Homo sapiens: one gene and its partners. The protein of the gene in region 2 interacts with the protein of the main gene of each other region in a biochemical or structural test. Each region holds a gene or a part of one and is shown on either strand. Other genes may lie near its edges.

Region 1 (7,000 bases), on a different chromosome or scaffold from region 2:
GGTGATTTACATTAAGACAAATTTGAGAGCTACTCTTCCAACTAGTAACACTTTTATTACTAACAAGTCATGTCTTAAAGATACTACTTAAAAATACTTTGAAGATAAAATTTCAAATGGAGAACACCTTCAGTAAGAAACCACCAGTTTTAGAGTAGAGTGAGATGATAAATCATGAAATGCCAAAGTTTAAAAACCATACTTTTAGTTTTATTTCAGCCATGTTAATTCATCCCCGAGCTGTGAAAAGTTATGCTACTGGGTAGCTGGGTAAACCCATCAGTTCTATATACTATGTAAGGTTGACCTCTAGTGTTTCACATACCTCAAACCAATTATTTTGTGCCTTAAGGAGAAAAAAAATAACAAACTGATCACAGAGAATTTGTATCTGTCACATATATAATATATCATGGTCATAGTCACATTACTGCCGTTAGGAAGTATTTGCTTTTCAGGGCAATTAAAAGTAATGCCATGTTCATTCACTGTCCTCTTCCCCTTTGTTTCCTTTAAGAAGTGAAAGGATACTACAAGAAAGCAAGCATTCAAACCATCAAAAAATAAGACAAATTATTTTAAGATATCAAAAAAAACCTTGACATGAGGAAAAAATGACCCTTAGGCCTGCAGGGCACAGAACTGCTGGAACACGGCCAAGATATGAGGGTCTAATTCAGCAGTGAAGAGAAGGTTCTCCAGGGTCACCATGTACTGCTGGATTATTTGGTGATGCTGTGGACACACAAAAGGGGGTAGTTAGGTCAGGAAAAAGCATATAAGCAATCTTGTGGAACATTTCCTTCAGCAGCCCACCCATGCTGCAGAATGATGAAAAGAGGAAGGGGAAAAAAAAGTGCTGATAGGAACAATGGACCCCTGAAAATCCCCAACATTAAAAAAATAAAAAGGGAAATGAAAAAAATGGATGCTCAATAGCTTTTTAAAAAATCCAGTTCTTACCAACTTCTATGTAAACAGAATTCATGATTCAAGGCAGTGGCAGCAGTGCCTGCTTGCTCCTAGTACTATTACGGACTAGGCTCAGCTAGCTCTCTCCCCAGTCAGGGCATAATACATTGTAACTTTTTAAAAAGCAGCCAGACGGACTGACAGGAAGATAAACAGTCAGAAAACGAAATACTCTTGTCTATGTGTTCCTCTATAAGCCATGAATACTCTCAGAGATTCTTATAGGACTAGAGACTGTTAAAGCTTTTAAAACTGGCAGTAACTATAAAATCAGAGGGAATTCCTATTTGGAGGCTCAAAGAATTGAACTTAGAGTGACTTCTACATTAATCATTCTTCTAGAATGAACAAATGAAGATTTAGGGGAGTAGTGTCCGAAGATACAATGAATTAGCTCCACTCTCCTATATACCTTTAACTTAAATCTAGGTGAGAATAGGTGCCGGCATTTTGCTTTTGCAGAGAGACCCCAGGGAGCTTACCTTGATTCTGTGGACAGTTTACCACCTGCACATTGGATAACACTGGCTTTTTAGGGACTTATAAATCCAATTACTGTCCTCTTGATATTTTTGTCCTCTACATTTTATATTACAGCTAGGATCCCCAGCATAGAAAATGACAATTAGGAGACTGGGCACCGTGGCTCACGCCTATAATCCCAGCAGCACTTTGGGAGGCGGAGGCCTCCTGAGGTCAGGAGTTTGAGACTAGCCTGGCCAACATGGTGAAACTCTGTCCCTACTAAAAATACAAAAATCAGGCAGGAGTAGTGACGGGTGCCTGTAATCCCAGCAATATGGGAGGCTGAGGCAGAAGAATTGCTTAAACCTAGGAGGTGGAGGTTGCAGTGAGCTGAGATCGTGTCACTGAACTCCAGCCTGGGCAACAGAGTGAGATGCCATCTCAAAAAAAAGGTGGGGCGGGGGGTTGTTGGGGGGGTGGCAATTAGGAATCTAAGTGGTACAGAATCAGTTTAAGCCTAAATATTCTGATGAGCAATGGTAGCAGCAAATGGACATGAACTAAAGGGTCTAACAGGTACTATATAACCTCCTAACAAATTTGACAAGGATTTTTTTTAATGAAAAATCTTTGTGGCTGAGAATAGTGTTATTACCTAATCGAAGTTCCCCACATACCTGTAGGAAGATCTGCTGCAGCCTCTCTATACAGTTCTTATACCATGGTGTTAATACACTGGTCCCATCAGTTTCGCATCGTACTAGGTGCTCGGTCAAGATCATGATAAACCGCTGGAAAGGGAGAAGAAGTTAAGGTAGTACTACAGACAGAATCTTATACTTTGGAAAAAAATTCATGACAAAGAAACCCCAAAGTATTGCCTGTTCCACCCTGTCTTTGTGGTGTGTGTGCCTAGCTTCCATTATTCATGAAGTCAACCTAGAAGGGCAGACTGGTAATAACATGAGTTGGTACATTCTTCCTGGCAATACATAAAGACCTTTAATGTCTTAAATTACTTATCCTAGTAATATTACTTCCTGGAATCTATTCTAACGAAGTAATCAGAAATTTTAACAGGAATCTATGCATTAAAATGTTCATGGAAGGAAAATGATCAGCAATGAGGAATAATTAAACGAGACATATATAAAAAAAGCAACCCACAATTTTTTTTCAAGCATGGAGAAATGCTCATGCGAGAATACTAAGTAAACAGCAGAGAAACTCAGACATACATGGTTGCCTCTGAGTAGTGAACTTTTATTTCCTTCCTAAATTTTTGTATTTTTAATCTCTTCTATAAATGAATGTGTATTCCTTTTACAATGAAAAATAACATTTTTAAAAACTAAAACTAAAGAAATGTATTGTTTCCTTTTATGTATAAATGTCCCAAGCCAAGATACCTGAAATATAACGAGGAAAAGATTCTTTTGTTCACTCTGAGCAGATTCCACTTTTTCCTGAAGTCGTTCTATTTGTTCCTCAAGAACCCCGTCTTTCCTGTCACTGCTTCTGTCGTCATCATCACTTCGCTATAGAAGGCAAATGAACAAAAGGAAAATACCATTTAGATTCCAGTGTGTTAAATCTCCTCCAGGGGAAGCATTTTACTGTGTCTGGCCAAATGTTAAGACTTATATTCTATAGTGAAAGTACCCCCCCACCCCGCCACCCACACATATATACCTCAAAGTCCTGTTGTGGTTCAGAGACACTGTCTTCTCATTCAGAAATTCCATGGGTTCTTATCTAGGCCAGGGAAATTTAGTGGCACTTGTCTTGGTAACAACATGGGGGGACTTGGCTACAATTTATCACTATTTGACCATTTGAGCAGTAACAACAGGGAGACAGCTTGCTAATCATTCATCTGCTAATGGGCCATACAGAAAAACTGGGCAAGTCCTATGGGCCAAGGCTGCTCATTCTTGTTATAATTTAGAAATGGCTCCAGCCGACATATAATAATTCAAAGTGGGCTGTTTAAGACTTTCTGCTGGCAATGATGGGCTCAATATACTCCTGTAAAGCTTTAATAATCCCTGCCCCCAGCTCACTCTGAAGAGTTTATAGAATTTAATTTTTTCTTTTTAAAGGAAAAGAAAAACAAGGCATGGTTTATTTCCATTTTACAGAGAAAAAAGGCTGAGAGGTTAGATGACTTTCCCAGCATCACCCAGTCAGAAAGTGGCAGAGCCAGAACGTGGCTCTAAGGTGTTACATACCAAGGTACTTTCAGCAAGAAGGTGGCATCACTGAATCTAGAAAGCCTGGTAATTCTTCGAGGTTAATACTTAACTGCTAAGGCCCCATCTACTGATCTCTCCACTTTAAGCAAAATTATCAGAACCCTGCTCTCGGATATCACAGAATCTTGCTTTTCTCTCTATAAACACAGCCCATTTATGAGGTCTGCTCTATGTTCTAGACACGTGGGTACACGACTGTCCTTTCCTAACACCACTCAAAGGTAAGGTTCTAGAGCACTACTACCTAATAGATAGACCTTTCTTCAATGGGGCCAATGTTATATAAATATGTGCAGCCTGTTACGACCGCAACCACACGTTACTACTGAGCACCTGAAATATGGTTGTGTGACCAAAGAACTGAATGTTAAATTGTATTTAACTAAAATAGTCACGTGCAGCTAGTGGCTACTGTGTTGGACAGCACACTTCTAGAAACAGTGTGGCATGAGAGAAAAGTCTCTGGAGTCTGACAGACCTGTGTCAGAACCTAGCTCTGGTCATTTACCAGCTATGCAACCTACTAGCTATGTTACTTAACTTCTCTATGTCTCACTTTATAACATCTACAAAATGAGATGACACCATTTACCTTACAGTATTTCAGGTCTGAGTGTTTATATCCATATATGTATACAGGTATGTCTACATGGAGACTGGTACTCAAACTTGCGAAAGGTTCCTATAGGGCACTAAACTCAACTTTTTTTCACCTTCTACTATGGTAAATATGCATAACACTGGAAAATACTTTCATAATGAATAGTAGTATCATGTTAAGTCACTCACTGCTTCCCTCCAAAATGGCTAAAATACTAAATTAATACTATGAGAAGTATTCCGTTAACTTGGGAATGACTGCCCCATTCCTCCTCACAGTACGGGGAAAGTGTTAAGTATCTATAGTCCTCTCCCTCTTCCCCCAGAGACTCCTACAGAAATACAAGTGTCCTCTTCCCTTCTGCTACTTCCCTTGTGCAAACGTGAGGCCGACCCAGAGATAGTGAACTATGGGAAGTGAAGTTTGTGGCTTCCTGAACTGGTTCATCATGCAGTGTAACAGCACACAACACACTACCTGCTCCTTCCTCCTCTTCTGCTTCTGCATTAAATTGGGCTCAGAAAAATTTCTGCTCTGCATTAATTTGGGCTCAGAAAAAATGAAATATCATCAAGATAATGAACTCTGAATCCTCTCCAGAGTTTCTGGTATATTTTCTTTAACTACTTACAAGTTTACACAAAACTTACCCGTTTGTGTTGCCTAGCAAGTTTCTCTTTAGCTTCTTCCAGCTCTTTCTGGATCTTCAGGACATGTTTGTTCATCTTACGAATTGTAGAGTGCAAAATTTCCCAAACAAACAATCTTAAAGAAATATGGCATTTGGTTACTGTATGTCAAGCTATGGTTACAGAAAATAAAATCTTTCAACTTTTGTAATTTCATTCTTAACAGCTGATACAGCCTTCTGTCCTTGGGGCTGAATTAGTCATCTTTCTCCAGCAATACTTACAAATTGGTCTTTTATTGTAAATTGTGCAAGTATCTATCTTCACACCCATTAGATTCAGGCGAGCCCCCTGAGGGCAGCACTGTGTAGTCATTTTTCTTATTTCCATCCCTTACCAGAGGTACATACTTACTGAATTGAAATGGCAAACTATGATGGACATTAACATTAAAAATGGAAATACATTTTTCCTCTCCTAAATGTAAACATTATGTGTAGAAATTTTCTCAAAATGGTGACCTAACCTGAGACTTATTTCCCATGCTTTATATTATTTAACTAGCACACACTCAGCCAATTATTCTCTTGGAATGTTTAAGAAACTCATTAGTTGATAATAGGTATCAACTGATGGGCTCTAAGAATGAGATAATTATATGTCAGCTTTCTTACTAGCAAATACATACTAAGATCACTTTGTAGGTGCTTTGAAATGTTTGTTGCATAAGTGTTTTTCTTTTAAAAAGTAACTTCTCAGCTACTTTTGTGTCTATAAACTAGGTCTCCTAACCCAGCACAGAATAGTACAGTTGGCCCTTGAACAATACAGGTTTGAACTGTGCAGGTCCATTTACACATGGGTTTTCTTCCACCTGAGTCAATAAGACCAACCCCTCCTCTTCCTCAGCCTACTCAATGTGAAGATAATGAAGATGACCTTTATGATGATCCACTCTCACTTCATGAATGTTTCCTCTCTTATGATTTATTGTAAGAATACAGGATATAACACATACAACACAAATATGTGTTAATTGACTACGTTATCACTAAGGCTTCTGGTCAACAGTAGGCTACTAGTTAAATTTTCCATGCAGTTAAAAGTTCTATGCAGATTTTTGACTGTGTGGGGTGGGGTGGGTGGGGCGAAGTCGGTGTCTCTAACCCCTGTTGTTGTTCAAGGGTGAACTGTACTTCCTTCTACAAATTTTGACCCAAATAATAGTTTAAGTGGAAGATAATAAAACAATCTGTTCATAAAACTCCAAGTCTAGAATGTTAGGAAACAGGACAAAAGAGCAGAGCACTTTAACTCTGGAGGGGGTGGACTATAGTCAGGGAAAGGTTTGCAGAGTTACAAATATTTGAGCTAGGTGTTAAAGAACAGATGGAGCTGTTGAGCACTATACAGATTCCAGAATGCCTGGGTTTGAATGCTGGCTCTGCACTTAGTTGTGTGACTTTGGGCAGGATAAAGCACTCTGTGACACTTCCCTATTCTGTAAAATGTGGACAATAATGGAACCTTCTCTACGGTGATGCGGTAAGGATAAAATGAATTGAAAACGTAAATCACTCAGGACAATGGTTAAAACATACTCGGGTGGTTAGTTTTCTGAGAGTTTACAAATCTGAAAAGGTTCTTCTGTTGTCTTTGTTTATGAAGGCCAACCTGGCCGGTATGACAACCTTAGATCACACCCTATCACCCTAACAATTCAGTATATTTCTGATCAGTGTCCTCTGGCAGTAACAGATACAGTGGAAAAGTTAAAGGTTGTGATGGACTTTTATGTTTTTACAAGTAATTTGCTTTAGTTTCCTGCTTTGTGTCAACTCCTGCTGCCCTGGTCCTATCAGCTGTAAAGTCCGTGAACTTCATAAATAAGAACCAAACAGCAAAAACTTTCTTTCCGTTAGGGGGAATGAGGGCAGAATGAATCTTCTGCATTAAACCTAAGATTATGACTGTGGTGAGAACCCCTTTCCCCCATCCCTCAGGTGTCTTGTTAATCACCAAGCTTTCCTGGATCCCTCCATGATTTACTCTACTTTGACTTTGATTTCTCCTACTTC
Region 2 (7,411 bases):
ATATACAAATCAAGAGATATTCACATCTAAAAAAGAAAAAATAAATAAAAATAAAAAAGGATATGTACATGCAGGGAGAATACAGTCTTATTGTCAAAAATATTAAACATGTTTAGCAAGGACCTGGATCAAAGTATCAAGGCTCTAGTAGTTAGGTCTGCATACAGCAGAAAGTTTGGTTAATACCAAAATGTAGTTAATGTCATAGAAAAATGAAATGAAACTTAAAATGACCAAGAGCAATTAGAATCATTCATTGAAAGAGTATGAATTTAGAAATGGAAAAGTATAAAGAAGTATGATGCCGGGCACAGTGGCTCACACCTGTAATCCCAGCACTTTGGGAAACTGAGGCGGGCAGATCAGCAGAGGTTGGGAGTTTGAGACCAGCCTGACCAACATGGAGAAACCCCGTCTCTACTAAAAATACAAAATTAGCCAGGAGTGGTGGCACATGCCTGTAATCCCAGCTACTCAGGAAGCTGAGGCAGGAGAATCACTTGAACCTGGGAGGCGGAGGTTGCGGTGAGCCAAGATCGCGCCATTGCACTCTGGCCTGGGCAACAAGAGCGAAACTCCATCTCAAAAATAAATAAATAAGTATGATGAGGAACAATTAAAACCAAGAAACAACAAACAACACCACAGATAGAGGATGGCCTGTCACAAAAACGACAGAAAGGTGAACACAAAGTAGTCAATGATGTAGTACACCAATATAGCGGCTTTTTAAAAGTTAATTTTGTAGGCCAGGCATGGTGGCTCACGCCTGTAATCCCAGCACTTTGGGAGGCCAACGTGAGTGGATTGCTTGAGCTCAGGAGTTAGAGATCAGCCTGGGCAACATGGTGAAACCCCTTCTCCACCAAAAATACAAAAAATAGCTGGGCATGGTAGCACACGCCTGTGGCCCCAGCTACTTGAGAGGCTGAAGTGGGAGGATCGCTGGAGCCCGGGAAGTCAAGGCAGCAGTGAGCCATGATCATGCCACAGCACTCCAGCCTGGGTGACAGAGGGAGACCCTGTCTCTAACTAACTAACTAAATAATTTTGCAGATCACTTTGTTGAAACAAACAACTACCTGATCCTCAGGTCCCCTTTTGCAACTGCCATTGCTGAATGGGAAAAGACTCCACAGGAAAATTAAATAGGCTGGATATGGTGGCTCTCACCTGTAATTCAAACACTTTGGGAGGCTTAGGCAAGAGGACAGCTTGATGCCAGGTGTTCAAGACAAATTTGGGCAACATAATGAGACCATATCTCTATTAAAAAGTTAAAAATTAGCCAGGCATGGTGGCATGCACCTGTAGTCCTAGCTACTCAGGAGGATGAGCCGGGAGGACTGCTACACTCCAGCCTGGGCAACGGTGAGAGACGCTATCTCAAAAACAAAAGCAAAAAAAGTCGTTGGCATCATTTATGCACATTTTTAAAAAGTTTCAAAACAGGAAACCAAAGAATAGGGGAAAAAACATAACAAAACAAAAAATTGTATCTATAAATAAATCAATGAAGTTTCTAGAGCAAGGGAAAAAAAATTCTCCCTCTTAGGTAATTCAGGAACTACTCTGAGACTTGACTACTAATTATTGCCTGACCATATGACTTGCACTTCTTACTCCACTATCCTCCCCTCTTACCTCTTTAATTATCTAGGTCCTATATAGCCATAAAGGCCAAATTCAAGTGCCAATTCCACTATGATGGTTTTGATGGCTTCACTACCTACACCAGCTCTTGTTACTTCTCTTCATTGTACAGACTGTAGATTCATTCATTTGGTTTCGTACATATATCTTATCATATTCCTCACTTTTTGTAAGCGTCTCCCCTTGAATCCTATGCTTTTTAAACTTCTTGAGGACAGGGGCAATTTCTTCCTTATTTTTGTCTAATTAGACCCATGAACACTGTAGATACTCAAGAAAGGTAATTAATTAGGTGGGAGGATCCTGCCAGTGCATCTTCTATTTCTAGGGGCCAGAATACGAGCACATGAACCTAACATGATCTAGACAAGATTTAGAGATGCAGTTGAAGATACTGACAAATATTGGAACAATCTACCACAAAGGTGATACTGAGTCACTATTTTTGCAGAGCTTTGTTACTAGTTTGCCTTAAATAATTCAGAGTTTGTCCTGAGGGTAGGGAGTGGATAACAGTGAATTTAATCTTTTAAATTTCCTTCAAGTTTTATGATCGTGACACGGGGGCAACAGGAGAAGAGAAAAAGTTTGGAAACCAAACACAAATGTTTTCAGATTCCTGCTAGGTATGTAAATGGCTAAGTCAATGCCGGTAGGGGTACTCATTCAGAAACACCCAGTGCCACTCTGTACGGGCCACTAAATTGGGCACTGCGGATATAAAGGTTCATTCCTCGCTTACTGTACCCACAGCTGCCAAGAAATGACCACTACAAAACAGTCGTTATAACTGAGGGAACAAAGCGCCAAAGCAGCAACAAAAAGGGGTTCTTGCTGCTTCGCGGGATAGGGGGCTGAGCAGCCTCACAAAGGCGACGTCCTCGCAGTCTGAAGAGGAGTGGGCAAGGCGGACGAGGGTGGGGCTCAAGCGTCCGTCCGGTAAAAGTGAGCTGGAAGAACCGAGGCCCAGCGTGAGGAGGAACCGCGAACTACTTGCAGAAGGGCGAACGTCTGCTGCTGAAGGTGGAGAGGGAGTACCAATGTACGAGGCTTTATAGAAATGGCCGTTTGGTAAAGGGCAGTGACTCTGGAGCTTTTTCTCTAGGGATCCCGCCCGTCCTCCCCGGTTGAGCCTCGGCCCCAACAGCCCAGTGCCTCACCCAAGTGCCCCGAGTCCTGCTTCCGCCTCCGCTGCAGCCTCTCCCGCAGAGAGTCCAGCTGCTTCTTGTGGGCCTGGATAGAGCTCCACGTGTCCGACATCCTAGTCTCCCAGCCCTGACACCTCTCGAATAAGGCGCGGCGGACTAGCACCTCCCAGCACTCGCTCCAGGATATAGCCAATTCTCACGCGGACACCCCGAAGGCTAACCGGAAAATGACCCCTGGAGCTGAGCAAGACAGAAAAGTCATTTCCGGTGTCGCGCTTTCTTGGAAGCTATAAAGAGCCACGTTAGGTGTTGGCAGAGCGGCCGGTATAGTCCTCATACCCGCTCTCTCATGCTTCCGGACACAGTGAGGCTGTGGTTGCCATGTTGGTGACTGGCAGAGCGGCCATGTTGCTTATAGACGCGCATGCGGCCATGTTGAATATTCGGAGAGGAGTCCTGAGAGTTGACTTGTGTTAAAGTAGCACTCGTAGAGAGCAACACCATATAGTACAGTTTTGGGGGTTTTTTTCTTTTTTTTTTTTTTGAGACGGAGTTTCACTCTGTCGCCCTGGCTGGAGTGCAATGGCGCGATCTCGGCTCACAGCAACCTCCACCTCCCGGGTTCAAGTGATTATCCTGCCGCAGCCTCCCGAGTAGCTGGTATTACAGGCGCCCGCCACCACGCCCGGCAGATTTTTTGTATTTTTAGTAGAGACGGGGTTTCACTGTGTTGGCCAGGCCAGTCTCGAACTCCTCACCTCGTGATCCGCCCTCCTTGGCCTCCCAAAGTGCTAGGATTACAGGCGTGAGCCACCACACCCGGCCATAGTACAGATTTTTAAGATGAAGGATCACTAGTTCCTTTTGACAGTTTGGTACTAACATACCTTTTCCACTGAAGGTGGTGTTGGTTTGTTTCCATGCGTTCATTTACAAAAAAATAAAAAACACAACGGTGGTCCCCAATCTGAGGTGAGGAGGGGGCGGTGGTGGGTGCGGGCATGCTTCTTTGTGTTGACGAGGCGTGGGGAAGTGGGGAGGGCTGATGAAGGAAAAATCCGAGAGGTCTTCAAATACGTGATCTCTCTCTTAGGCTAAATTTACAAAGTACGTGTAATCTATTAAAATCGGGTTCCGACACTAAGAGGGCTTTGAGGTCCTGGTTGCGTTGTGTTTTTTGTTATGAGAGCTACCTGCATGAGTGTGTTCAGTTTGTGAAATGTAATTGAGCTGAACATTTTGGTGTGCACTTTTCTGTATGTGTAGTAAACTTAAATACAAGGTTGGTGGTGGTGGTTTTTCCTACAATCCTTTCTTTCTTTCTTTTTTTGACACATTTTCTTTTTTTTTTTTTTTTGAGATGGAGTCTCACTCACTCTGTCACCCAGGCTGGAGTGCAATGGCGTGGTCTCAGCTCACTGCAACCTCCGCCTCCTGGGTTCAAGCGATTCTCCTGCCTCAGCCTCCCGAATAGCTGGGATTACAGGCGCGTGCCACCACACCTGGCTAATTTTTTTTATTTTTAGTAGAGACAGGGTTTCACTATGTTGGCCAGGCTGGTCTCGAACTCCTGACCTCGTGATCTGCCCCTACGATCTGCCCCCCTGCCTCAGCCTCCCAAAGTGCTGGGATTACAGGCGTGAGCCACCGAGCCTGGCCTGACACAGAGTTTCATTCTTACTGCCCAGGCTGGTGTGCAGTGGTGTGATCTCAGCTCACTGCAACCTCCACCTCCTGGATTCTAGCTGCCTCAGCCTACCTAGTAGCAGGTATTACAGGGACCTGCCACCATGCCCAGTTAATTTTGTATTTTTAATAGAGATGGGGTTTCACCATGTTGGCCAGGCTGGTCTTGAACTCCTGACCTTAGCTCATCAGCCTGCCTTGGCTTTCCAACGTGCTGGGGTTACAGGCATGAGCCACCGGCTTGGCCTTTTGTTTGTTTGTTTGTTTTGTTTTTTTAATGGAGCTCCCTGAATGGAAACATTTCGGGAATCACTGACTTATCCAATGTCTACATGATGCCATACGCTGTTGTCCAAAAAATACAAAAAATAGTTTGACTGGCATGGCTCCTGTTTTCAAAGAGTTTATAATCTGGTCAAGGAGCTGTGAGCCAGTTTATTAATACTGAACCATCTTCACAGCATGAGGTAGCATGGGCATAGACTTTTTAAAAAACAAAAACAAAACAAAACAAAAAAACAGGAAAAAAAAAAACGTGATTTCAAAGAAGAGGAGGACTCCAAGTTTAATGACCCAGGAAGGCATTGGAAAGAAGCTGGAATCAAGGTTCAGGCTTAAAATGACCACTAAGGTTTCAGTAGGTGAAGGTATAGGAGGGAAATCCAGGTCTGGAATATGATAAAGGCAAAGGTCTAGACTAGAGGTAGGAAAGCGTGATGTGTGTTATGCCAATCTGGATTAGTTCGCCAGAACATAAAGATTTATATTTGGGAATATTGGGAGAAATTTTAGGTTTCCAAATTTGAGGCCAGATTGTAGAAGGTACATGGTACCTGAGTAAAGACTTGGCAATTTATTCAGAATACAATAGGAAACACTTAGGGTTTGTAAATAGGAATGTTTCAAAATTGATTTGCTGTTCTAGATAAATTGAGGTGAGGAGGAAGGAGATTTTGGAGAGGACAAAGATGGTTATTAGTCCATTGTAACTAAGTGTCTGATGAGAAGAACTGTAACTAAAAGCTGGTTATGAACAGTAATGAAAAGGAAGGGGTGAATATGAAGGGAGCTATTGAAAGATGTATGTGTATTGTAATATGACTTTTATCCATTCAGTAAGTATTGAGTGTTTACTATGTGTTAGATACTATGGAGATTTAGTAGTGATGAAAATACTCATTTCCATCTCATTTTCTGAACTTAATTTACTTTTAGGGAATTTACACTATCTATTGGGATGTGTAACTTTGTTTTTTTGTTTTTGTTTTATTGAGACAAGCCTCACTCTCACTGCTGGAGGGCAGTGGTGCAAAGAAGTAGCACAAGTACTCCTGAAAGTCAATCAAATCAAGGGCAGCTCCCAGAAGTTTTTGCTTTCACATTAACTCTGGGTAAATTATTACAGTGGCATATTGGGCAAATTTTAGAAGTACAGGAAGGCCTCTTAGCATGATCTTCTTGTAGAGAGATTCTTTTTAGACTCCTCTTGACCAGTTTGCTGCTCAAAAGAAAGACATTGCTTTCTTGTCCGCGCGTAGCCCTCAGCAGTACACAGAGGAGAAGGAGGAGGAGGAGGAGGGAAAAATGCAGAATTCTTCTAGTCAAAATGGAGTGTAAGCCTAATTTTGAGCAGATGGGTGCTGCATGCATTACACTTCTCAACTTTTCCTCATATCTGCTATGGTAGATTGCTTCCAGTGTTGGCCACAACAATGCCTCTCACCTACATGCCCTTAGGCAGTGTGACTTTGCCCCCTTTCAATCAATAAGTAAAGCTTATTCCCCCTCCTCTTGAATCTGAGCTAGGCTTCTGACTAGCTTTCACCAAAAGAATGTGGCAGAAGAGATATTCCCTGAGTTCTAGACCTTAAGAGGTCTAGACCTTAAAAGGAATTACAGCTTTCGGGATTTGGTTTTGTTTTGTTTCTAATTTTTGAGAGAGAGTCCCTGGGTCTGTTCCATCTAAACACTGTTGAAGCAAGAGACAGATCTGAGGGACCTCCAGATGTGCTGCCGCGGCTTCTGTTTCTGCCCTCTTGGAACCCTGGGCCTTCATGGAAGTCCAGTCACCCTGATAGACCACTTAAAAAGAGAGACCCTGGGGGATGAAGGATGGTAAGGAGAGAGGGTTCAGCATTCCAGCCAGCCATCTGAGTAGCCAGAAGTTGAGGCCATCTTGGCTTCTCCAGTCCAGATGAAAGCTGCATGAGTGAGCCCAGTCCTCACCACATGGAACATAGACAAGCCATCCTACCAGGCACTCCATGGAATCATAAGCAAATACGTAAGTATTAAGACACTAGGCTGGGTGCGGTGGCTCACACATGTAATCCCAGCACTTTGGGAGGCCAAGGTGGGCGGATCATGAAGTCAGGAGTTCGAGGCCAGCCTGGCCAACATAGTGAAACCCCATCTGTACTAAAAATACAAAAATTAGCCAGGTGCGGTGGCATGTGCCTGTAGTTTCAGCTACTTGAGAGGTTGAGGCAGGAGAATCGCTTGAACCCAGGAGGCAGAGGTTGTGGTGAGCTGAGACAGTGCCATTGCACTCCAGCCCGGGTGACAGAGCAAGACTCTGTCTCAAAAAAAAAAAAAGAAGACATTAATTGGCTGTGTGCTGTGGTATGTGCCTGTAATCCCAGCTGCTTTGGAGGCTGAGGTGGGAGGATCCCTTGAACTCAGGAGTTCAAGACCATCCTAGGCAACATACCGAGACCCCATCTCAAACATAGCACTAACTGTATACTTCACTTTTTTTTTTTTTTTTTTTTTTTTTTGAGATGGAGCCTTGCTCTGTTACCCAGGCTGGAGTACAGTGGCACGATCTCAGCTCACCACAACTCCCCCTCCCGGGTACAAGCAATTCTCCTGCCTCAGCCTCCCGAGAAGCTGGGACTACAGGCATGTACCACCATGTCCGGCTA
Region 3 (7,035 bases), on a different chromosome or scaffold from region 2:
ACATGAAGTCTTCATAGTCTTGTACATATCCTCCATCATAACCACCATAATCTGCCAGATCATCTTTCATGGTGGCTTTTAATCCCCCTCCAGGAACCACACCTTTCTTCTTCTTTTTGGCTTTGCTTTGCTAAAGATGAAAGAGAGTTAATTCATGAACCTTAGTGTGCTATGGGCATCTTATCTGGTACAGCAACCCTCATAAACAAACACACAAAAACCTTTGGTCCCAGAAACACTAGTTCTGTAAGGGACATCCGAGCCTACATGTTTTGGACCTGAACAGGTCTCCCAGAGTCAGTCTCTCCAAAACTTGATCTGGGTCCTTGGTCCTGCTCTGGATACCTAGCCCACCAGCAGGGGTTATAAGTTATTGGTAGACAGCCTTAACTTCACTGAAGCAAATTTAGAAAAGTGTGGATAAGTACCCCCCAATTTAAAATCACAAAGCTCTAACCTTTACTTGACATACTTCTCTTACTTTACTCTTATAAATACTCTGCAAAGTGAGTATTATTGTTCCTATTTTAGAAGGGAGAAGACTGAAGCTTAGAAAAGCTGATTTACCTATACCTATTAAGTAGCAGTGCTAGTATTTGAACCCAGTCTGTGATTTCAGCAATTTCTATTAACTCAGAAAAGGGGAACATGTCTGGAAACAAAAGGACAGTAATAGCACCCATACTCCTCTTCTAGTCTAACTTAAATGGTATTAGTGAGTTGCTTGACTTTTAATTAGGACAGGCTCCTATTATATTTGTTGACTGTTAGACCTATAACCCCACTCTAATTTAATACCCATTTCCCTACACAGCTTGCTCTTACCTTTTCTTGCTTCTGTTTTTCACTGCAAAGCACAGTCAGTGAATTGGTAATTTTTTTCAAGTCATCAATTTCCACTTAAAAAAAAAAGGGCATACCATTAAACTTGAATTTTTAAGCATTTTGAAAAGTTAAAGCTAAATATGTACATTCCATATATATCTATATATCCCAAAATGTACATTCCAAAAGTGTTATGAGAAATCCAATTTGTTCATTGTTAAACTTCAGTAACTTTGAAAGGACCATGAATTTCTCCTCTTTAAACGTAAGGTGGCCGGGCACAGTGGCACATGCCTGTAATCCCAGCATTTTGGGAGGCCTAGGTGGGTGGATCACTTAAGCCCAGGAATTCGAGACCAGCTTGGGCAACACAGCTAGACCCTGTCTCTTGAAAACAAAATTCATTTTATTTATAATGACGACCTGTAATCACCAACACACCATTGCTCAACCAAAGAGAAACTGTCTTTATAGCTCACAATGCTCCCTACTATCCTTCCTCAGTCTAAACAAATGGGGGAGGATAACATGCCCTTCCATTAACACACCCCCAGTAATCAGGGAGAACAGACAAATAAACATGAAATGACAATTACTATTATTTTTTTTTTTTTTTGAGATGGAGTCTCACTCTGTCACCCAGGTTGGAGTGCAGTGACGCGATCTCGGCTCACTGCAACCTGCGCCTCCCGGGTTCACACCATTTTCCTGCCTCAGCCTCCCGAGTAGCTGGGACTACAGGCGCCCGCCACCATGCCCAGCTAATTTTTTGTATTTTTAGTAGAGACGGGGTTTCACTGTGTTAGCCAGGATGCTCTTGATCTCCTGACGTGATCCGCCTGCCTCGGCCTCCCAAAGTGCTGGGGTTACAGGTGTGAGCCACCGCACCCGGCCTATTTTATTTTTTTTTTTGAGACAGAGTCTCGCTTTGTCACCAGGCTGGGGTACAGTGGCGTGATCTCGGCTCACCACAGCCTCCACCTCCCAGATTCAAGTGATTGTCCTGCCTCAGCCTCCCGAGTAGCTGGGATTACAGGTGCGTGCCACCATGCCCAGCTGATTTTTGTGTTTTTTTTTTTTTTTTTTAATAGAGATGAGGTTTTACCATGTTGGCAAGGTTAGTCTCAAACTCCTGACCTCAGGTGATCTACCAGCCTCAGCCTCCCAAAGTGCTGGGATTACAGGCATGAGCCACCACGCCCGGCCAGAATGACAATTCTTAAACCTACAATGACAACACCCTATCCCATGATGTCTCCATTTTCTTGCACGGGAACTACAATGAGAACAGTGACCATCTCTATGTCCTACCAAGAAATAGTCCTGTTCAGTGGACAGCATTATCAGCCTTATAAAAATATGAAGCTGGAAAGAGACACCAGTTTTTAGCTACCAGAAAGTGTTCAGTTTTGGTTAGAGAACACCTCCAAAAACCAGAAAAAAATTAGTACATGCAGAATAAAATATCAACTCTGGGCACATTACCAATCAAATGTAGAACCCTCAGCTTAGTGATAATTTATCAAAGAAAACCCAATTCATTGTGTAGGATTCCTTTTTCTCCATCTTAAAAACTGCAAATAGGCTGGGCGTGGTGGCTCACACCTATAATCCCAGTACTTTGGGAGGCCAAGGCAGGGAGATCACCTGAGATCAGGAGTTCCAGAGCAGCCTGGCCAACATGGTGAAACCCCGTCTCTACTAAAAATACAAAAAATTAGCCGGGCGTGGTGGCAGGCGCCTGTAATCCCAGCTACTCAGGAGTCTGAGCAGGAGAATTGCTTTTTTTTTTTTGAGACGGAGTCTCACTTGGTCACCCAGGCTGGAGTGCGGTGGCACGATCTCAGCTCACTGCAAGCTTTGCCTCCCAGGTTCATGCCATTCTCCTGCCTCAGCTTCACCTTGTTAGCCAGGATGGTCTACAATCTCCTGACCTCGTGATCCGCCTGTTTTGGCCTCCCAAAGTGCTGGGATTACAGGCATGAGCCACTGCGCCAGACCAGGAGAATTGCTTTAACCCAGGAGGCAGAAGTTGCAGTGAGCTGAGATCGTGCCTCTGCAATGCAAGACTCCATCACAAAAACAACAACAACAAAAAAACTGCAAATACTAGCAAAACCAGTCCCTTCCATACATTCCTGCTTCACCACCCATGGCTGTCACTCCCATTCACCCTGCCCTGAAATGTATGACTCCTATCAAGGTGTGGCACCACAACCACGGACCCAGAGAATAGGTGCCAGCCCTGTCACTCAACTTGCACCCTGTCTAATTCTGATTTGTAAAAGACAGTGGCTGAAGTCTCACCCAACCCAAATCCTACAGTGCCAGAGACCTTTTCCCTCAAAAGATACTTCCCAGCCCCTCTCAAGTGATAATCAGATAAAAAGAATAGGCCAGTGTTTTATTAGCTGCTTTGCTGACAAGCCCAGGTATCTCTTAGGGAAGCCATTGTAAAACAAGAAGTCCTCTTACCCCTACAAACAAACAAAAAGATCCAGCACTCAAATTCACTGTATCTGCAGAACAACATTCACAAGGTAATTGCTAAAAACAGCAAATCATGAGTCTGTATTATAGTATCCTTGAAAATAAAAAATAACCTTCAACCTCCTGAAGAGAACATCCTACTAAAAATCTACCCAGAGGGGCTAGAAATTAGAATTACTTACATGAAATACACACATCTCGAACTAAGACTTCCAAAAAACTGGCATAATATAGTGACTTTTCATATTGTGTAATTTTATCTTTTAGTAACTTTCCAAACTCTGTAAAGTCATCTCTTGAAGATGGGTTCATAGCATCTATTCCATAAACTGCATTATTAACACCTGTAGGAGAAAAGAAGCACTGAAAAGTATCAGGAGGTTAGGATTTTTAAAAATGAAACCTTACAAAGCCAATAGCTATCTGAATAACCCTGTCGTTTCATTCTAAAGCAGGGGCTCTGAACCTGGAGCCACTGGAGTCACTGGATAGAATGGCTGGGTGAGGGGGGAGGGGGGTTACAAACTTAAATCAGAAAAAAAGTTACATCTTTATTAACCTCTAATTCAGCATTTCCTTCAGTTTCAATTGACTGGCAACAAATCACAGTGGTATTAGCAAAACTTGACTTACCAGGAGAGATCACACTCTCCTGCCATTACAGATATCTTACAATATTAATATTGTTCAGTCATAATTACTCTCAAATGACATTATTTGACGTGCCACTACACCTGATTTAATGCATCGATAAGGAAGCATATAATTCTGTATCACAAATTTGTCATTTTAGTATTTTGACATCTATTTATATATAACAGGTTTTCTTTATAAATAAGTATTTTATTCATTTAAAAACAATATATCAAGGCCAGACACAGTGGCTCACACCTGTAATCCCAGTGTTTTGTTTGGGAGGCCTAAGAGGAAGGATCGCTTGAGGCCAGGAGTTTGAGACCAGCCTGGGCAACACAGCAAGACCTCATCTCTACAAAAAAAATTTTTTTAATTAGCCAGGTGTGGCCAGACGCAGTGGCTAACACCCGTAATCCCAACACTTTGGGAGGCCTAGGCAGGCCGATCACCTGAGGTCAGGAGTCCGAGAGACAAGCCTGGCCAACATGGTGAAACCCTGTCTCTACCAAAAATACAAAAATTAGCCAGGCATGGTGGTGGCATGTATCTGTAATCCCAGCTACTTGGGAGGCTGAGGCACGAGAATCACTTCAACCCAGGAGGCGGAGGTTACAATGAGCCGAGACTGCACCACTGCACTCCAGCCTGGGTGACAGAGTGAGACTCTGTCTCAAAAAAATAAATAAAATTAGCCAGGTGTGGTGATATTCACCTGTAGCCCTCGCTACCCGGGAGGCTGAGGTGGGAGGATTGCTTGAGCCCAGGAGTTTGAGGCTGCAGTGAGCTATGGTCATGCCACTGCATTCCAGACTGGATGACTGAGCAAGAACCTTTCTCTAAAAACAAAACACAACATATTACATTACAAAAGGGATACTCTGTTCTTGTCCAAGAACACCCCCACAGTAAAGTGGGGAGAGAGGGAACAAAAAGAATAAGAAACAAAGATGGATCCTGTGAAAGTATTTGTCTAACTCCAGAAGCTAAGCGGGGGTAAACATGTTAAATCCCAATAGAAGAAATCTGGCCTAGGCTGTGCATGGTGGCTCATGCCTGTAATCCCAGCACTTTAGGAGGCCAAGGCGGCAGATCACTTGAGCTCAGGACTTCAACAACAGCCTGGGCAGCATGGTGAAACCTTGTATCTACAAAAAAAGCCCCAAAAAACAAAAATTACCCAGGCGTGGTGGCATGCGCCTGTAGTCCCAGCTACTTGGGAGGCTAAGGTGGGAGGATGGCTTGAGCCCAGAGGCAGAGGTTGCAGTGAGCCGATCTCAGCCACTGTCCTCTAGCCTGGATGACAGAGCCAGACCCTGTTAGAAAAAAAAAAATCTGGCCTAGATGAGTTTTACACTAAGATAAGTATGCTTCTGTATCCTCCATGTCAAGTAGATTAGTTATTAACAATATTACATGTGGTATTTTAGTATGAGAAACACAACAGTAAAATCCTATTAACAATGACTATATGAATGCATGTTTTTACCTTTTAGTCTATAACAGGTGTCCCATGCTAGGCTTTATGCACACTTCATAAACCTGCCTCTTTAATAAACACATGGGCAGCTTTTACCATCCTAGGAAGACACATATTAACAGCCAAGAGCTCTCTATAATTAGATGAGTGCAGTTAAGACCTGCCAAGCATACAATGGTGCACAGGAGCATTCACATCAACTCCTGGTATTTGTACAGATCCACTGACAGATAAGGTCATACTTCCTCATGAAAAGGAAAACAATCACTACAGTCAGCCTGTTGATCTGTTTCAGAGTAGAGAAAGTATGAAAGTGGGGGAGGGGTATCAGAATAACTAGAGCTTTCCTTCTTGGTTATAAATTTCAGTGATTTAACTGTTTCAACATGATCTTCTACTCTGAAAAGTACTCAACAGGTAACGATAACTTGGTTAAATGAAGCGAGGGCTTTGACTATTTCTCTAGCCATGTCTCTTACTCTGGAACACTCTGAATTTATCTATTTATAGGATCCTGCACTTTTATCTCACGCACTAACCACAGCTGCAGACACCGCACAAAGAAATGGAGGCCCTCTAAAGATAGGGCATGGTAAGGGCAAAGAAGGGTTGCAGAAGGAAATGACACTGAGCACAAGAAGGCACAGCAAAAGCTGCATGCCTCTCACCTGGAGCAACATCCTACTGTCTAAGTCTTAAGACAACAGGACAGCCCTACAGTCCATTTCAAAGCTACAGACCTCACATTTCATGCAAATTTCATCCAGCTGATAAAAATATTCTATGCAGTAGTGTACTTCATCTGAGTCTACTCCTTTTTGCCCTTCTTGCATTGCTATAAATGACTTATCTTAATAATCTTTTACTCAAAACAATTATTCAAAAATCTGAACATGTAATGAAATCTCAAATATACACAGAGATTAAAAACTGCTTTCTAATATCTACATTAGCCAGTATGTTTCTTTTAAGAAAAGGAGATGTTTTCTGAACTTTCTGGGTCTTCACCTGTAACAGTTTAATACTGTATTGCAATCATAATCCCGTCTTACCAAAAGTTTCCTTTGCTAATTCGAGGTCTGACTCTTCCTGTAATTTCTTTAGCCGCAGTTTATCTGCTAATTGTTCTTCTGGTGTTAGCACTTTAGGTTCTTCGGGTTCTTCTAACTAAAATGAGACAAAAGTTTTTAAAAAGCACAGGGATTATGATGCACTCAGTACCTTTCTGTATTGTACGAATTCTTAAATAAGCGTATATAATAACAAATAAAAGTGAACACTGGTAATTACTGTTTCAGGCATTCTTCTAAACACTTTAGTTTTTTTTTTTTTTTTTTTTTTTTTAGACAGAGCCTCACTCTGCCACCAAGGCTGGAGCACAGTGGCATGATCTTCGCTCATTGTAACCTCTGCCTCCTGGGTTCAAGTGATTCTCATACCTCAGCCTCCCGAGTAGCTGGGATTACAGGCGTGCACCACCACATCCAGCTAATTTTTGTAGTTTTAGCAGTGATGGGGTTTCACCATGTTGGCCAGGCCGGTCTTGAACTCCTGGCCTCAAGTGATCCGCCCATCTCAGCCTCCCAAAGTGTTGGGATTACAGGTGT
Region 4 (7,035 bases), on a different chromosome or scaffold from region 2:
TATTAAGAAATTGGAACCCTTGTGCAAGGTTGGAAATGTAAAATGGTGCAGCTGCTATTAAAAAAAACATACAGAAGTTCCTCAAAAAATTAAAAATAGAATTACCATGTAATACCACTTCTGGGTACATATCCAAAAGAAAATGGAAACAGGATTTTGAAGAGATATTTGCACACCCATGTTCACTGCAGCATTATTCACAATAGCCAACAGGTGGGAGCAACCTAAACTTCCATCGCCAGATGGCTGGATAAGGAAAATGTGGTATATACAGATGATGAATTATTATTCAGCCTTAAGAAAAAAGAAGAAAATCCTGTCATTGCTACAACATGGATGAACTTTTAGGACATTATGCTAAATAACATAAGTCACTCACAAAATAATAAATGCCACATGATTCCACTAACATGAGGTATCTGTAGTCAGACTCTTGGAAACACAAAGTAGAATGGTGGTTGCGGGGATGAAAGAGGTGGAAAAAGGGATTGTTCGATGGATACAGAGTTTGAGCTTTGCAAGATGAAATAGTTCTAGAAACCTACTGCACAATATGCATACACTTAACACTACTGTAATGTATACTTAAAATTTTTATGTGCTTTTTACAATAAAAAGTTACACAGAAAATGAAACCAGGGATTTCAAACAAGTGAGAAGTTATTTTCAACTTGATTTTTAAAAAATCTTCTAGATGCTGATTTTAGCCTTTGATGTGAGCTTTTAACTACTCTCAGCCTTTGCTAACAAAGGAACTACACCTATAGTACAAAAATAAAATTTCTGAAATGCTTGAGGAGTATCTTCTTTCTGAAGCAGAAAATTGAACTCCATCTCTTTCTAAACACTGACTTATTCAAAAGAGGATAGAAGGGAATGGATAACAGACACATAAGGATGATCTTTGTCCCTCAAAACTTTATTTAGCAAGCTGATTTCATGTTGACAAAGTCAACATCAGCACAGTTCCTATCCAATCTATGACAAATCAGAATCACAAATTCCAAATAAGTAAAGGCCAAACTAATGATGTCTATAGTATAAACCCTCATTTCCCAGAATTTATATAATTTTCCCAAAGTATCAGACATCAAGTGAAGTAGGCTAGCCTGACAGATTCCCAATTCACACATTATCAAAAGTTATGGTGAGACCTGTGTCAATATCCATTTGTATGCACTGCAAAGACACACTTGTGATGAACACCCTTACCTTCATCAAAGTCAGCATCATCCTCTGTGTGCTGAGGGAAAGGAAAGCAGTTGGTAATTTCAAGCCGATCTTCTACAACCAGACCCAAAAGCACTCCTTGAACAACTTCAGTTCCTTGTCCTTCTTCTTGATAATGTTTGATTATCTTTAATACCACCTAAAACATACACACACAGAAGGGAGCTTAACAACCATCCTAGTTTATTATTTCCTTTATTTCTAAGAAAAAACAAAAGAAACTGTACTAGGTTTGCAAAACCACAAATTAAATAAGAGGAATAAATAAATGTCTTACAAATCCTTTCCTTTACCCTTACATAAATAATAAAGCTCACATAATCTAAACGCAGATCTGAAACTCCAGGAGTTTGATTACATGTCAAAAACGTCCATCTACAGCAGTTATGCTCTTAAATCAAAGCTTCCCCATGGTCTGGCATCCAGGAGTTCCTTCAGCCAAATCAAAGAATACCCCCTCAACCTGAGGCTATTATTGAGAAAGTGATCCTGTTAATAGACACATAAATGACAAAACTATCAATAAGACACAGAGATAAAGGTCTCAATTATCGGGACACCTGAAAGCAGAGCCTTCTGATAAATTCTCATTTTGCCTTTCTCAACAGATCATCTCCATAGTCAGAGGATGCAACAACGGGAACACGTACCCACACATATCCAACAACAATCTGGTTGGTATAGTCTCCAGCATGATCTAGTTTTCCTCAACCAGAAGGATTCACTAAGCAACCTCTAATGGAATAACCAGGTCTTCTACTACTCTCTCCTTTAATATTCCCATAAAGATAAGAGGTAACACCGTGCACAGGTGGACAAGAAATTAAAGTCTGCAATAATCATAATCATTAATAATTCCTACAACATGGCGTTAATATATGTAAAGTGTTTTATAGTGCCTGGCACATATTAATAATAATAGCATTAATATTTAATATGAGCCCATGGCCTGAAGACCCAAAAGGCAACACATTCAAAATTGTAATGTAAAGTTCTCAGAGGAAAAATAATTCTAACAAGAAAATGACAATTTATTTGTACGTTATTAGTGTTTCATTTAAAACAAATATATTATTGTTAGAAACGAAGTAATGGGTGGGCCAGGCACACACAGGGTGAGCAGCTACTTCTGTGTGCAGCCTGAGCCCACAGGTCAGCTCAGCCACACGGATGGTGAAGAAACAGCCTAAGAGAGAATCAATGCGGTTGTCAGCTAAACCTGCTCCCGCCAAAGTGGAAACGAAGCTAAAAAAAGGCAGCAGGAAAGGATAAATCTTCAGACAAAAAAGTGCAAACAAAGGGAAAAAGGGAGCAAAGGGAAAACAGGCCAAAGTGGCTAACCAGGAAACTAAAGAAATTTACCTGCACAAAACGAAGAAACTAAAACTGAGAAGAGTCCAGCCTCTGATGACGCCAGAGATAAAGAAGCCAAGTTTGACTGATATCATAACACACTGTATCTTATCAGTGGTCCCTATTTCCCATCTTGTACAACCCAGAGGAATACTGTTACCAACTATTTTGTAAACACAGGTTTGTGTGAGATACTGAATTATGGGAGGGTTTGACTGTCCTGAGTGTCAGCTTAACATTCCATAGTTGGGGGGTTAGTTTTTATATCCTGTAATACAAAGCATACTAAATGGCAATATGGAGTTGCAGTCCTGCATTTAATGTCTTGAACATTTTAAATTACTTTCATTCCCACATTATTTTTTAGTAGAATTGTTTCCTAAAGAAAAACACTCTTTGATCATGGCTCTCCCTGTCATAATTCTGTGCACTGTAACATCTTTGGTCGTGGTAGTCCTGCTTTTCTAATGAACTTTGTTAATGTGCTGTGGAAGATTGAAAATTTGAGTATGTAGTCTATATGGTATTATACTGTGAATTGGTGAGATCTATGTAACAGCTTACTAACATGTGAAGATACTGGTACTTGATAGCCTCTTATGGAAAATTTGCTTCCCAATTTTAAGCTGGAAAGTCACTGAAATAACTTTTTAAAAATTACAACACATGGCTTTTTAGATTTTCAGTATATATGTTAAGAATTGTGTACAAATTGAAATGTCTGTGTACTGATCATCAACACGACCAATAAACCAATTATGAAAGAAAAAAAGAAACTAATGACCAGTTAATAACAGCACATTACATTTACTAAACATTGTATGACAGGCAATAATCTAATTATTTCACATGTATTACCCTATCATGTAATTCTCACAACCACCTTAGGAGAAAGGTACTGTTAATACTCATTTTATAGATAAGAAAACTGAGGCAGAGAGAAATTAAGTAAATGGCTAAAGGTCACACATCTAGGAAGTAGTAGAGCCAAGATTTAAACCTAGTTTAAACCTAGTTTTAGGTTTAAAAGTAGGTTTTTAAACCTAGTTTTTAAACCTGGGAGATGATTTTCATATTAGTAACTAAATTGATAGTTAAAATAACCAGGTAGTAATAGACAACAGATATGCAGTAAAAACTGTGTTATGAATAGACCCAAAAAGACTACACCAGTAAGATACAGAACTCCAAAGGAGAGCAAGCAGTCAGCAGGGAAAAGAGCTCAAAATGGAGTAACACCAACTAATAAGATTGGCAGACCTTCAATACTACGAAATGAAAGTGCACAACCTACACATTCCTGTATGAAAGACCTCTCCACTTCTTGAAAGGCACAAAAATGGACTTGATGAGTCATACAAGTATGGGTATGAGTTCCAGCTCCAGCATTTACTAGCTGTGACCTTGAGAAAGCTATTTAATCTTCTCAAGCCTTAGATTCTAATTTGCAAAATAGCACTATTTCATAGCATTACTGACACTACTAAAAATGACACAGTATAGAGTTCTCTGCACAGAGTCTGCCACATAGTAAGTGCTCAATAAATGACCAATATTGTTGATATTTGTCAATAACTATTTAATGCTTATTCAACATACCTCTCTGCCAAGAAAAATTATTTCTACACTTAAAAAATAGAACAAATACAGGTGATCAAGACGGGATAAACTAAACTGATAAAGAGTTATTACAAACACAACTACCAATTCACCTAGGTTACCTAGATTCCTTTATACTTACCCCTACTAATGAGATTGCTAAACCACTACTGAAATCAAAGTAAACAAGAGATATTAGAAGATATATGAGCTTAACATAGTTCTTCAGACAAATTCTAGAAGTGATTCCTAAACAGCTGATTCCTACATATGCAAAAGGGAATACTGGTGACTAGGACCAGCACAGTTTCATAAAGAAGCCAGATGAAAATAACCTCATTTCCAGTTATGAAGAAAATAGCAATAAAAAAATTAATATATTTTAAAACAAGTTATTACAGTTCAAACTATATTGAAAACTGTCTTAACTCTAACAAAAGTGAATTCTAAAGGGATCAGTAAGGATAATGTAACCAAACAGCACACCAGGCTTGACATGCTTGCCAAACAGCCAATGCAATTTTATGTAGTATCAATAGAATACAGCGCTCCAAGTAAAAGAAATAATTATCTCGCTCTTTCGACATCACTGAACTGTTATCCTCAGTTCTTTACAATGACCCAAGAGAAAATTTACCAGTAACAGTACCAAACTAAGAAATGAGAAAAGCACAAAAAACAATCAGTATGAGTAAGAATCCACAGAAAAGGGTAATTACAAGAGAGAAAGCTTAAAATCCTGTGATGAGAACCAGTAAAATTAATGCAAATCTCTCTCTAGGCAAGGGACACTCAAAAAAAGCACTTTCCAAATACTGAAGAGTTCTTTGGCTGCTTAGAGGATTAGTCTTACTTTGAAGGCAAAACCTAAGAACCACAGGTGACAGTTTCTGGAAAGAAGATTTCAACTCTAAGGATAAATTCTCTCTAGTACTGAAGGCTGTCCAAAAAAGAAAGCATTCAGGAAAGACTCAATCACTAAAATAATTTCCAACTTTAATATTTATGATCTTGTCATTTTAATATAATCTGATAAAGTACTCAGGAAAAAATCACTATTATCAAAACTAAGCTAGCTCATTCTTCATTGTGACATTTTATGATCGTCCTATTTCCTACATACACACTAAAACCTCAGTTCTTTAGTTCAAGAAGTAATGTCATGGAAATGCCTTACAGTAGGATTCATTTGGAGCAGGGGTTCCCAACCCCAAGGCCACGGACAGGTACTGCTCGGGAACTGCTCTGTGGCCTGATAGCAACCTGGCTGCACAGCAGGAGGTAAACTGCCTAAGCTCTGTCTCCTGTCAGGTGACCAGTGGCACTGATTCTCATAGGAGCACAAACCTTTACTGTGAACTGCACATACAAGGGAGCTAGGTTGCATGCTCCTTTGAAGAATCTAATGCCTGACAATCTGAAGTGGAACAGTGTCATCCAGAAACCATCCTCTCACATCCCCGCAACCCCCCACGTGGAAAAACTGTCTTTCACGAAACCAGTCCCTGGTGCCAGAAAGGTTGCAGACACTGATTTAAATGTTAAAAGGAAAGGAAATTCCTGATTAAATATAACTAAATGACATACATACTTCTGCTATTCTACATAGATAACCAAGAATTTGCCATGTATATATATTTCAAAGTTTCATAGATTCGAAGTATCTTTTAATAGAGACAGAATCCATGTTGTGCTCATTGTTTCCCCTCGTGAATGTTCCCATAAAAATGAAAGGATGATTTACTCACCACATCTTCAACACCTAACACAGATACTGGCACATAAAAGATACTCAAAATATATTTTGCTGAAGGAATGAATGGCAAACACTTATCACTTATGATATGTCAAGCACTCCACCGTCTTACGTGCAAGGACTCATTTAATCCTTACAACCACCCTGTGAAGTCAGTTATATTATTTTCCCATTTTACATAAGGAAACAAAGATAAGCTGACAGGGAATTTAGCCAGGGAAGTGAGATCTGACTTCTGAGTCCAAAGCACTTCTAATTACTTCACAATAAATGAGTGATACCAAACTGAGTGCACCAAATATGTTGATAACAGCAAGGCTGAAAAAGACACATGGAAAGCTTAACCATTCTTCAAAACAAAAACACTCTCCTGTTATATTTTGCTTATATGTATCACAAATGACCCCACATTTGTGATACATATACACTCAGGAGCCCTATTTACTCATTCCCAGCTGAGCAAAATCACCTAAAGAGCTTTTTTTAGATAAATGAAGAGGGGTCCTCATTCTGGATACACATTAGAGCCATCTGGGGAGCTTTAAAGTATACTAATGCGTGAGCACACTCCTGAAATTCAGCTAACTGATACCGGCTGGGTTCCTATACTGGGTTTGGTAGGTGGTGTCTGTTTTTAGTTCTCCAACTTACTCTAACATCCTATTTAGTTCTAATTTCTAATGAAGTTGTATGGCCTAGCTTTCCTTTGTTTTTGTTTTGTTGTAACTCCTCAGGTGACTACAATACACTGCTGGTCAAACCCCAATTTCCTTTCCTCTGTTTTAAGACTTCGTGGGTTGCTGAAAAGTGAAGGCACTGAGAAATACAGACCCAAAAGTGAACATGTTGTTTATAAAAGCATAAATATCACCCTAATAAGAGGAATTCAAGCCCTAGTTGGAACAATCTCTACAGCATATAAACAAGAGGGAAGGTAATACCAGCAACCCATCTTGAAACATTCATGTTTTCTGCAGCACAGTAAGACTTACACCTTAGCATCTGACCCCGTTATCTAAGACTGTTAAGAACCGATGCTGACTAGATTTGTTTACCCTATAAATTAGTGGGTAAATGAGGATTCTTCCATGAATTAT

The links.
Region 1: the proteins of METTL3 (region 2) and NCBP1 are reported together in a solved structure, tested with the Homo sapiens proteins (one study listed by BioGRID).
Region 3: the proteins of METTL3 (region 2) and EIF3J form a complex in vitro, tested with the Homo sapiens proteins (one study listed by BioGRID).
Region 4: the proteins of METTL3 (region 2) and EIF3H form a complex in vitro, tested with the Homo sapiens proteins (one study listed by BioGRID and IntAct).

What each region holds. Positions count from the first base shown.
Region 1 is NC_000009.12:97,664,821-97,671,820, reverse strand, and holds part of NCBP1 (nuclear cap-binding protein subunit 1), read right to left. Parts: intron 5,059-7,000; coding exon 4,944-5,058; intron 2,976-4,943; coding exon 2,847-2,975; intron 2,229-2,846; coding exon 2,115-2,228; intron 736-2,114; coding exon 622-735; 3' UTR 1-621. UniProt on the Homo sapiens protein: Component of the cap-binding complex (CBC), which binds cotranscriptionally to the 5'-cap of pre-mRNAs and is involved in various processes such as pre-mRNA splicing, translation regulation, nonsense-mediated mRNA decay, RNA-mediated gene silencing (RNAi) by microRNAs (miRNAs) and mRNA export.
Region 2 is NC_000014.9:21,508,311-21,515,721, forward strand, and holds the start of METTL3 (N(6)-adenosine-methyltransferase catalytic subunit METTL3), read right to left. Parts: upstream 3,031-7,411; 5' UTR 2,914-3,030; coding exon 2,814-2,913; intron 1-2,813. UniProt on the Homo sapiens protein: The METTL3-METTL14 heterodimer forms a N6-methyltransferase complex that methylates adenosine residues at the N(6) position of some RNAs and regulates various processes such as the circadian clock, differentiation of embryonic and hematopoietic stem cells, cortical neurogenesis, response to DNA damage, differentiation of T-cells and primary miRNA processing.
Region 3 is NC_000015.10:44,554,113-44,561,147, reverse strand, and holds part of EIF3J (eukaryotic translation initiation factor 3 subunit J), read right to left. Parts: intron 6,596-7,035; coding exon 6,481-6,595; intron 3,660-6,480; coding exon 3,498-3,659; intron 900-3,497; coding exon 826-899; intron 131-825; coding exon 1-130. UniProt on the Homo sapiens protein: Component of the eukaryotic translation initiation factor 3 (eIF-3) complex, which is required for several steps in the initiation of protein synthesis.
Region 4 is NC_000008.11:116,724,804-116,731,838, forward strand, and holds part of EIF3H (eukaryotic translation initiation factor 3 subunit H), read right to left. Parts: intron 1,370-7,035; coding exon 1,213-1,369; intron 1-1,212.